Homo sapiens: one gene and its partners. The protein of the gene in region 3 purifies or fractionates together with the protein of the main gene of each other region. This does not show direct contact. Each region holds a gene or a part of one and is shown on either strand. Other genes may lie near its edges. The genes, in order: DNAJC17, BUD13 and KIN.

Region 1 (3,652 bases), on a different chromosome or scaffold from region 3:
GAGCATGCCCTCTCTAGCCACGGCGACCACCAGGTCCATCCTCCCCCACCTCCTCCTCCTGCAGGTGGCCTTCTGGCCAGTGTGCCTGAGTGCTCACCTCTTGCTCTAGTGTCCTGGTGCTCCGGCTCTCCTCTTCCTCCTCACTCTCCTGGGCCTGGGCCTGCCGCTCCCGGGCCTCCAGGTCTAGACACAAGGGTTGAATGACCAGACTGCTGGTCTGTTCAGTTTCCATGTGGCCTCGGCCCACCCCAGCTCTGGCTGCCTCCCCAAAGTCTCAATCACGACGAGATCATACAGTAACTCTGCCCCCTCCCTCCATGCCCACGCCCCCGAGTCAATTTCCATTGAGAAAAATCACAGCACAGAAGTATGGGGTCTAGCAGAGTGGCCAGGGGTCTGGAAGAGTTAAAAACAGCTCACACTGACCAAGCTGGTTCTCTCTAGTGAACAGGGTGTGGGTGGTGCTTATGTCAGCAGCCCAGGGCCATGTGTCAGGGGTGCCAATGGGCGGAGCTGCTGGGCTCGATTCCTGTGGTTTGGCACCACAGCTTGACTTGCTTTGGCTTTGATTCTTTTCACACACTGAGCTCAGGTTCTCACTGTCTCCTTTACCTCCCACCTCAACTCACATTTACCAAGCCTCACTGTGGACCTGGCTACAGGGATGGGCAGAGTGTTAGGGCATCACCCCGGGTCCTGGATTGTGTGAGGGCGTTACCTTCCAAGAGAAACCTGCTTGCAACCATGTGCCAGGCCAGCTGCTGTGAGAAACCCTTCTCTTAGTCCAGAGAAGTTTGTGCACTTTACTTACTTAGACTCTCCTTTTCTCTCTCTCTCTTTTTTTTTTTTTTTTTTTGAGATGGGGTCTCCTGGCACTTGCTTTTCTTTTAATATAGAAATAGATATTGGGATGCTATATGCACATATTAAAATATATGGATGTTGAAGAGCAAGAGGAAAAGGAGAAACTTGAGTAAAGAATGCTTGGACTGGGCCAGGCGCGGTGGCTCACGCCTGTAATCCCAGCACTTTGGGAGGCCAAGAGGGGTGGATCACCTGAGGTCAGGAGTTCGAGACCAGCCTGGCCAATGTGGCAAAACTCCGTCTCTACTAAAAATACAAAAATTAGCCGGGTGTGGTGGTGCGCAACTTAGTCCCAGCTACTCGGGAGGCTGAGGCAGGAGAATCGCTTGAACCCAGGAGGCAGAGGTTGAAGTGAGCCGAGATCGTGCCACTGCACTCCAGCCTGGGCAACAAGAGCGAAACTCCGTTTAAGAAAAAAAAAAAAAGAGTGCTTGGACCATGCTGCTATAACCAGTGACTTTTTTTTAAGTGAGAAAAAAAAAATGCTTGCAGCAATCTTATTGGGTTGATGAAAATGTTCCAAATCTGATTTATAGTCAGAGTTGCATCATTTAGTAAATTTACGAAAAATCATTGAAGTGTACACTTGAAATGGGTTGATGTTGTGATATACAAAGAATACCTCAATAAAGCTATTAGAGAAGAGAAAGCCTGGACCTCTTTGAATCCTTCTGAGGGAGCTTCTCAAAGTGAAAAGTCTGGGTAGGAATTGGGGTTAGAACAAATTAAAAGACCCAGCCGGGCACAGCGGCTCGCACCTGTAGTCCCAGCTACTCAGGAGGCCAAGGCAGAAGGACTGCTTGAGCCCAGGAGTTTGAGGCTGCAGTGAGCCATGATGGTGCCACCCTAGCCTGGGTGACAGTACAAAACCCCGTCTTTCTTTAAAAAAAAAAAAAAGAAGAAGAAGACTCAGCCAGAAATGGTGAATACAAGCACCAATTTTTTTGTTTTGTTTTGTTTTTTGAGATGGAGTTTTGCTCTGTCACCCAGGCTAGAGCACAGCAGCGTGATCTCAGCTCACTGCAACCTCTGCCTCCCGGGTTCAAGCAATTCTCTGCCTCAACTTCTCGAGTAGTTGGGATTACAGGCACCCGCCACCACACCCAGCTAATTTTTGTATTTTTAGTAGAGAAGGGGTTTCACCATCTTGGCCAGGCTGGTCTCGAACTCCTGACGTCGTGATCCACCCGCCTCGGCCTCCCAAAGTGCTGGGATTACAGGCGTGAGCCACCGCGCCCGGCCACAAGCACCAATTTTACTCACACTGGATAAGTTTAAATCCCACCTCCAGCAAGCTCTTAAACTTTTGGTGCCTTAGCTCCTTTGCCTATAAAAAATGGCTTCAGAGGCCAGGTGCGGCAGCTCACCAGCTGTAATACCAGCACTTTGGGAGACTGAGGTGGATAGCTTGAGGCCAGGAGTTTAAGACCAGCCTGGCCAACATGGTGAAACTCCATCTCTAAAAAAACGGAACAAAATTAGCCGGGCGTAGTGGTGCATGCCTGTAGTCCCACTATCGTGAGGCTGAGGCACAAGAATCGCCTGAACCCAGAGGGTGGGGGTTGCAGTGAGCCGAGATCATGCCACTGCGCTCCAGCCTAGGTGACAGGGTGAGACCCTGTCTCAAAAAACCATGTTCTTAAAAAAGGTTTAGTACCCACACTTCCTTGTATAGTTATGATAATTAAAGGGACAATAAGGCATTTGTCACAATGCTTAGCTAATATTAAACCTTATTATTGTTATTATTCCTAAGAGTGTCTTTAGGAACCAACCTCTAAGAACAGCGTTTTGCCCAGAGCCTGAGCCAAAAGGCTTTGAGATGAGTTGCTGGAAGTGAAGCTTCAGGTGAGGGAGATGAATGAAAATGACCACAGGAAACCACAGGCCACCGAGCACTATGATGGCACCTACCAAGCTTCACTTTCTTCCTTTTCTCATCAAGTTTCTGGGTCCTCTCTGCTGCTTGCTTCTTGGCTTTCCTGACCTTGTCATATGCAGCCTGGCAGGAGAAAGGGGCACAGGGCAGAGGGTCAGTGAGAGAGTAAAGACAGAGCCCCGGCAATCTGCCTGGCCCCTAGCCCACGAGCCATCAGAGTGGCAGCCTGGTGACTGGGTCTCCTGGGCTTAGACAGCAAGGACTGTGCCACATGGCAAAGGGCAGAGGACCGAGGTTGAGAGGCAGCAGTGGTCTCTAACCATGGGGGACGATTCCGATGAAGGAGGCTGTGCTTACCCTGGCTGCAGCATCGGTCAGCACCTCCAAGGCCTGAGAAAGCTGGTGGAAGAGTTCAGCTAAACATAAGGATCAAAAAGACAGAAGAAAAATAAAGTTAAGACTTCGTAATGGTGTGCTCCCTCAAAAAAAAAAAAAATCTTCAAAGAAGTCACAGGATGGCAGACAAGCCGACATCAGCAGATGACAGACCAACAAGGAGGGGTGAGCATATCAGCAACTGACCAGACACCCCTCACAGGAGGGAAGCCCTGGGACCCATTGCCTGGAGCCAGGCAATGTGTGCTTACACCCCACAGCACTCACATGCAGAGCTTACATCGGGAAACACAATGCCCGGGTGAGTGGGTTTCTTTCTCCCCACGCCCTGAGAAGAGTCTCACCTGCTCTGGGATTATCTGGATTTTTGTCTGGGTGGCAGGAGAGGGCCTTCTGCCTATACGCCTTCTTTACCTGGAAGAGTCAGACAGAAGACATGGCCATTCACTCTCATCCCAGGGACAAACAGGAAAACCTTGCTCAATGGGTAAGGGGAATCCCATGCACACCTAA
Region 2 (3,652 bases), on a different chromosome or scaffold from region 3:
CTATAAAAGAAAACCATCATCAAAACCATCAAGTTTAAGAATAAGCAGAAACACTAACAATATATTAAATGGAGGGCTACGCATTTGTATTTCTGACTTTTCAGTATATAAACTGCACACATGAAGACTATCTCAGGTCATCTGATCAGAAACCAGTATAAAGCACTAAGCCTTCCATTAGAGACCCATACTGATAAAATATTCCATTTACAGTACAAACTCAAGCAAACCTAAGATCCTTAAATTGTGGATATATTTCATGGTAATAACAGAAGATCTAACAAATGAAAACTTTTTGCTAATTTCCACTTAGCATCAAGATAGCAAATCAGCCCACGAATGAAGCACACAGTATATCTTGATATCCTTCAGCAACGAAATTGGAATAATATTAAGTTGTCCATGAACTAAATGGATATATAAAATGCCAAGAGGTCCAGCTGAAACAGAGACCTCTTTTTTCCCTAAAAAAGAAGAATCTCACTTCCTGGGTAAAGAACAGGCTGGTCTACCCTGCCAGGACCAGTCTTCTCAGAGTCTTCTACAGACAAGATTTACCTGATAAGTCTGCACTGGGGAGAAAAATGCACATCACAGGCTCTATCATTCTGTTTCTTAACCACTTACAAATAAGATTCCTTTACTACTACCAATGTTCTTTACAATATAATTACTCAAGGTTCATATGGATTTTGGGGTTTTTTGGCTAATTCATCAAGCCTTATCATGAATTTAAAACAAACCATTGACTTCTCAGACAACATGATTTCTAAAAGTGGTTTCATATTTTAAGTGCCTCTCCTTAAGCTCTGGATACAGAGACCTATAGTCCAATTTATACTAGTAAATCACTAACACTAGATGCTTACTTTGTCCCAGACACTGTGCTAAGAGTTTTACTTACACTGGCTTAATTATCATAACAACCTTACACAGTAGGTACTACTATTATCCACAATTTACAGATAAAGAAACTGAGGTTTAGAGATATTAAGCATCTTGCCCAAATCTCACAGACAGTAAGTGGCAGAAGGAGAATTTCTGTATGTGATCCGTTTGACACAATGCTTGTGCTCCAAACTTCACTCTGCAAATTACAGTCCTCGGTTTATTCCTAAGAAAATAGGAAGTTTTTCTAGACCTGTTAAAATGAGATTGTAGAATTAAGAGGCTATAAACGCAGAAGCTACTTGGGAAATCTGGTATCTGTAAGTCCATCTGGGATGGGTTATAGCCAGTTTGCCTTCAGAAGGAAAGACCTCCAAAGGTCCTTTTAACTAAGATTTACTACACTTCTCAGAGCTACATCCTTCTTCTTGGCTTGATTCTCTGGGACATATATAAAGCTGAGAGAGAAGAGTCACACGAAAAGAAGGACATGGCTCCTGAAAATCCTGACCTTCTTTCCAGGAGGCTGACTCCTTCGAGGCGGGGACAGGTCAGAATCAGAAGATTTGGTCCTCTGTCTCCTCCTTGGTGGAGAGAGGTCAGAATCAGAGCTCCGGTGTCTAGGTCTATTCCGTGGAGGTGACAGATCTGAATCAGAATCCTGGTGCCCTGGACTTTGTTTATGCCGTGGAGAAGAAAGGTCTGAATCAGTTGCTTTCTGGCAGTCACCTGGATAGGAGCAAAGAATCTGTGTGACTCTGATGTCCTCTAGGTGAAGAACTTACATGAAATCTCCTATGGCTGGGAGAAGAACCTAGAAATTAAAGAATTCCTTACATTATTATTATTTTTTTTTTTTTGAGACAGTCTCAGGCTGGAGTGCAGTGGCATGATCTCAGCTCACTGCAACCTCCGCCTCCTGGGTTCAAGCAATTATTGTGCCTCAGCCTCCCAAGTAGCTGGAATTACAGGTGTGTGCCACCACGCCCAGCTAATTTTTGTGTTTTTAGTAGAGATGGGGTTTCGCTATGTTGGCCAGGCTGGTCTTGAACTCCTGACCTGAGGTGATCTGCCCACCTCGGCCTCCAAAGTGCTGGGATTATAGGCTTGAGCCACCATGCCTGGCCAAAGAGTTCTTTAATCCCCTTGGAAGAATCTAAAAAGATAACTTACCAAGCTAATGTACAATATTTATTTAGTTTTCCTATGAAGAATTATCATTAACCTAAACATAAGTATGGATGGCACAGGAGAAGAGCAAAGTCAGAAACAACTTTTAAGACCAACAGGTAGAATATGGCATTCTATTCCCAAGTGACCACTGACTGTAACTGGTGTGTAAAATCTCCACACACTCCTCTATGTCAGTAACCCCACCCATGGAAAGACAAAATAACTTGTAGTCAGCTCTCCATAGTGTGGCAAAAGTCAGAAATACCTGGAATATAGTCTGATATCCTTGGACTAAAGGATAACAAAGTACTTTAATTTTAAAATTAAAATAGTTCCTAGGAACAAAAGAGGGAGTAAAAAATTTCACTGCACAGGCCTAAGTTCTAGCGACTGTATAAGCATCACAAGTCACCTCCCAAAGGGCATTCTGCAATATGTATCGACAGTCTTTAAAACGCCCACATCTTCTGACCCAGTACATCAACTTCTCAGCTTTCTAGGAAACTTATATAGAAGTAGTTGAATTTCGAGGAAATCTATCTAGAAGTAGATAAGGAAATAATCCAAAATGGGGACAACAGTTTATGTACAAGGATGTTCATTATAGAATTACAGAAGAAAAAACTTAGAAATAACCAAAAACATTCATTATTAGGAAAATGGTTAAATTTGTAATTAAACACTATTAAAAATTATACTAACATAAAGATGTTTTATGGCCTGAGGAAGACTACGTTAAGAAAGGACAGCAGGCAAGATTGCACATGCAATACAAATGTTCTACACAGCCAGAGCTCAACTATATAAAAAATGCAAACCAAAAAAGACTAAGATGACCCTGGCCACAACACTAACAATAATTGCCTCTGAATGACAGAATTTTGTGTCACATTTTATCTTTATATACTTCTGTACATTCCAAAGCTTCTGCAACAAATAAATTGTACTTTTATATGGGGTGGAGCGAGCACATAAAAAGACATATGAAAACCTTCCTCCCTGCCACCATAATTGTTCAACTCTCCCAAACCCAGCCTCTCACTTTTCAAAACTTTCCCAAAGAAATTCCATTCTTATACCTAATAAATCAACTAAACGGCCAAAAGAAAGCTCCCAGGGATACATACATCCCTCTCATGGACAGTCATATGCTCACCTTTGGAATCAAGCTGCTTCTTGTCTCCAAAATGGGATTTTGCTTGCTTTTTTCGTGGAGGAGAGATGTCAGGGTCATACTCATATTTGCTGTTCTTTGGGAATGACAAATGGGAGGCTCCTGACTCCTTCCAATGTGGAGAAGTCTTGCTAGAGGCTCTTTCTGGGGCTTTACCACTTTTGGTTCTGGGCAGGGAATAAGTGACATTAGGAGCCAAATCAGGGGAGTCATGACGGGCCCTTCTGAGTTGCTGTGTGTCTGAAGAGCCAAGAGTCCTCCTAGATGTGTCAGGGGAGTTGTTATGGACCCTTCTGGGGGAAGAGATATCTGAGGAACCATGACGGGCTCGCCTAGGAGGAGAGGGATCTGGTGAATCATGACGGACTCTCCTAGGAGATGCACCTGAAGAATTATGCTGAGGCCTCCTTGGGGGAG
Region 3 (3,652 bases):
GCTCAAGTGATCCTCCTCTCTCGATCTCCCAAAGTCCTGGGATTACAGGTATGAGCCATCATACCCAGGCCAAACAAAATTATTTAATGCTTTTCTATTGACTGCACAAAACTCAGCCTCTTTCGCATGACATTCGGGGTACTTCAAAAATTAGCCAAACCTTATTTTGGTTTCCCAGCCACCTCGTCTCCCTTATTCTACTCTACCCTCACTCTCACTCTCATTTTTATCAGCCATAAATTTTAGTCAAATTAGGCCATTTCTCAGATCTGTGAGGCTTTCATGTTTCTGTGCCAGCTGGAAATAGCTTTCTCTTGCAGTTCACCTCTAGGGTTCTACTTATCCTTCACTGACCACAATGAAATCACCTCTGGGCATCTCCTGTGACTCTTTCAATGGTATTTTGTTACACTTCTTCTTCAGTTTAACTTTTGTTATGATTGGTTATGCTAGATTGTAACCTCCTTGAAGGTTAAGATTTATGTCTTATTCACCCACGTTTATCTAGCACTTAATACGGTGTACCCAGCTCAGAGGGACATATTAAGTGCCAATTTCATGTGGAATCAGGGCAGTTTTGTTGTCATAGATAGACTGGGGTCATTATGCCACCATCAGTGGCACTAACAGACTTCATGAAGGACCCATTCCAAAGGTATGTGGTAACTGTTTCTATGACTGCTTTACCAAGACAAAAAATTTCAACTCCCAACTGACTTTTAACTTAATCCTTAAAAGCTATAATATTTTGGAGTTCTTTCCTTGATCAGTTTTTAAAGGTTCATAGCCATATTCATGTAGATGTTTCACATATCATTTGGACATTAAAACTATACTACTGGCTAGATGCAGTGGCTCACGCCTGTAGTCCCAGCACCTTGGGAGGCTGAGGCAGGTGGAGATCACCTGAGGTCACGAGTTTGAGACCAGCCTGCCCAACATGGTGAAACCCCATCCCTACGAAAAATACGAAACAAAATTAGCCAGGCGTGGTGGTGGACCCCTGTAATCCTGGCTACTTGGGAGGCTGAGGCAAGAGAATCACTTGAACCTGGGAAGTGGAGGTTGCAATGAGCTGAGATCACACTATTGCACTCCAGCTTGGGTGACGAGAACGAGACTCTGTCTCAAAAAAAACAAAAACAAAAAACTGTACTACTGCTTAAATTTCAAAAAGATGATGCTATATGTTTGTAGAAATTACCTTAATGCTTTCCTTTCTTTCTTTATTAGGGAATTCCGAAATGACTTTCTAGAACTTCTCAGGAGACGCTTTGGTAAACATTTTAAATATTGTGCAAATAACAGCTTTATAAATGGCATAATCTTCTGATGATCATCAGTGTCATATTTTGTTCTCAGGCACTAAAAGGGTCCACAACAACATTGTCTACAACGAATACATCAGCCACCGAGAGCACATCCACATGAATGCCACTCAGTGGGAAACTCTGACTGATTTTACTAAGTGGCTGGGCAGAGAAGGTAAGAATGAGATTTTAAAGTTGCTTTTTCTTTCCCACTTCTAATCTTCATAGGATGAGATGTTTGGGATAAGAAAAGAGAAAAAAAATTGGGTCAGTGTTTTGCTTTTTCATCGTGTTAGTTGATTCCATTTTGGGAGCATAATTTCTGCCTTAAGTTAATAGAACATCATATAACTGTTGGACATTAAATACTTAGATAGAACTGAATAAATACTATGCAAGGTAATACAGTTGTCTCTCAGTATCCGTGGGGGATTGGGTCCAGGACCCCTTGCTGATAACCAAAATTCACAGATACTCAAGTCCCTTATATAAAATAAAATGATGTAGCACTTGCATGTAACCTATATACATCCTCCCACATACTTTAAATCATCTCGAGATTTCTTATAATATTTAATACAATGTAAATAGTTTTTATACTCTATTGTTAGGGAAAAATGGGAAGGAAAAAATGTCTGTGCATGTTCAGTACAGATGCAACCATCCGTTTTTCTTTTTTTGAATATTTCTCACCCACGGTTGGTTGAATTCACATACAGTATCTAAATTTCATTAAATATAAATATGGAAAATCCCATTTGCTGCATGAATTTGTGTATTTGAATGTGTTTTAGTGTATTTGGTGTTTTGTTTTGTTTTGTTTTTGAGACTGAGTCTCGCTCTGTTGCCAGGCTGAAGTGCAGTGGTAGGATCTTGGCTCACTGCAACCTCTGCCTCCTGGGTTCAAGTGATTCTCCTGCCTCAGCCTCCTGAGTAGCTGGGATTACAGGTGTGCACCACCACGCCCAGCTAATTTTTGTATTTTTAGTAGAGATGGGATTCACCATGTTGGCCAGGCTGGTCTTGAGCTCCTGACCTCAAGTGATCCACCTGTGTTGGCCTCCTAAAGTGCTGAGATTACAGGTGTAAGCCACTGCGCTCGGCCTGATTTGTGTGTGTTTGAATGAATAAATATGCAGAGGTGAAACACATTCATATTTATGTTTTGCTTTGATTGTATGCTAATTTATGGCAGTGGCTGTTTTTTTAAGGCTTGTGCAAAGTGGACGAGACACCAAAAGGCTGGTATATTCAGTACATAGACAGGGACCCAGAAACTATCCGCCGGCAACTGGAACTGGAGAAAAAGAAAAAGCAGGACCTTGATGATGAAGAAAAAACTGCCAAATTTATTGAAGAGCAAGTGAGAAGAGGCCTGGAAGGGAAGGAACAGGTGGGTAAGCAACATCATCCTGAGAAGCAACGTCCAGAGGTCTAAAGAAGCACAATGGCTTGGTTTTTCTTTTTTGTTTTTGTTGTTGTTGTTGTTTTGGAGATGGAGTCTTGCTCTGCCGCCCAGGCTGGAGTGCAGTAGCGCAATCTCAGCTCACTGCAACCTCTGCCACCCAGGTTCAAGCAGTTCTCCTGCCTCAGCCTCCTGAGTACCTGGAACTACAGGCGCCCGCCACCACGCCCAGATAATTTTTGTATTGTTAGTAGAGACAGGGTTTCACCATGTTGGTCAGGCCGGTCTCCAACTCCTGACCTCGTGATCCGGCCGCCTCGGCCTCCCAAAGTTACAGGATTACAGGCGTGAGCCACCGTGCCCAGCCAGCTTGTGTCTTTTCAGCGTTGAATCAAGTTCTGTGGGCACTGTTCCTGAACTAAGAGGAGAACCAGCCTGGTGTCAAAAGCACATTTTTGGCATTGACAAACCTTGGTTTGATTCCTGACATACTAACTTCATAATCTTGTATAATTGCATAATATTTCCAAACCTCAATTTCCTTATATCTAAATAGAGACGCTACCTAATGGGAAGACATATACACAGATAATTTCAACTGATTATAATTAATTCAGTACTGGAGGTAAATGCAGCATGTGGAAACATAGAGAAGCAATGTTTACTCTGGCCTGGGGAGGACAGAGTATTTGAGGGTGGATACAACCCCAGTGCCCAGGAGTCTTGAAGAATCAGTGGGTGCAAGCCAGATGAATGGGGAGGGAAGGAGCTGAGGTGTTAGAATAACTAGGTTGGGGCATTTATTTCAACATATATTTATAAGCGCCTCCGCTGTGCCAGGATTCTTGTAGGCACAGGGAATACTCAGTGAACAAAAGATACAGAAAACTGTCTCCTGTGGCTTACATTTTTTTTTTTTTTGGGGGGGGGACGGAGT

The links.
Region 1: the proteins of KIN (region 3) and DNAJC17 fractionate together in Homo sapiens (co-fractionation; one large-scale study listed by BioGRID). This does not show direct contact.
Region 2: the proteins of KIN (region 3) and BUD13 purify together in Homo sapiens (affinity purification with mass spectrometry, with the first as the bait; one large-scale study listed by BioGRID). This does not show direct contact.

What each region holds. Positions count from the first base shown.
Region 1 is NC_000015.10:40,776,445-40,780,096, forward strand, and holds part of DNAJC17 (dnaJ homolog subfamily C member 17), read right to left. Parts: intron 3,554-3,652; coding exon 3,484-3,553; intron 3,160-3,483; coding exon 3,101-3,159; intron 2,867-3,100; coding exon 2,779-2,866; intron 184-2,778; coding exon 98-183; intron 1-97. UniProt on the Homo sapiens protein: May negatively affect PAX8-induced thyroglobulin/TG transcription.
Region 2 is NC_000011.10:116,759,336-116,762,987, forward strand, and holds part of BUD13 (BUD13 homolog), read right to left. Parts: coding exon 3,218-3,652; intron 1,618-3,217; coding exon 1,400-1,617; intron 1-1,399. UniProt on the Homo sapiens protein: Involved in pre-mRNA splicing as component of the activated spliceosome. As a component of the minor spliceosome, involved in the splicing of U12-type introns in pre-mRNAs.
Region 3 is NC_000010.11:7,777,889-7,781,540, reverse strand, and holds part of KIN (DNA/RNA-binding protein KIN17), read left to right. Parts: intron 1-1,233; coding exon 1,234-1,277; intron 1,278-1,362; coding exon 1,363-1,485; intron 1,486-2,521; coding exon 2,522-2,703; intron 2,704-3,652. UniProt on the Homo sapiens protein: Involved in DNA replication and the cellular response to DNA damage. May participate in DNA replication factories and create a bridge between DNA replication and repair mediated by high molecular weight complexes.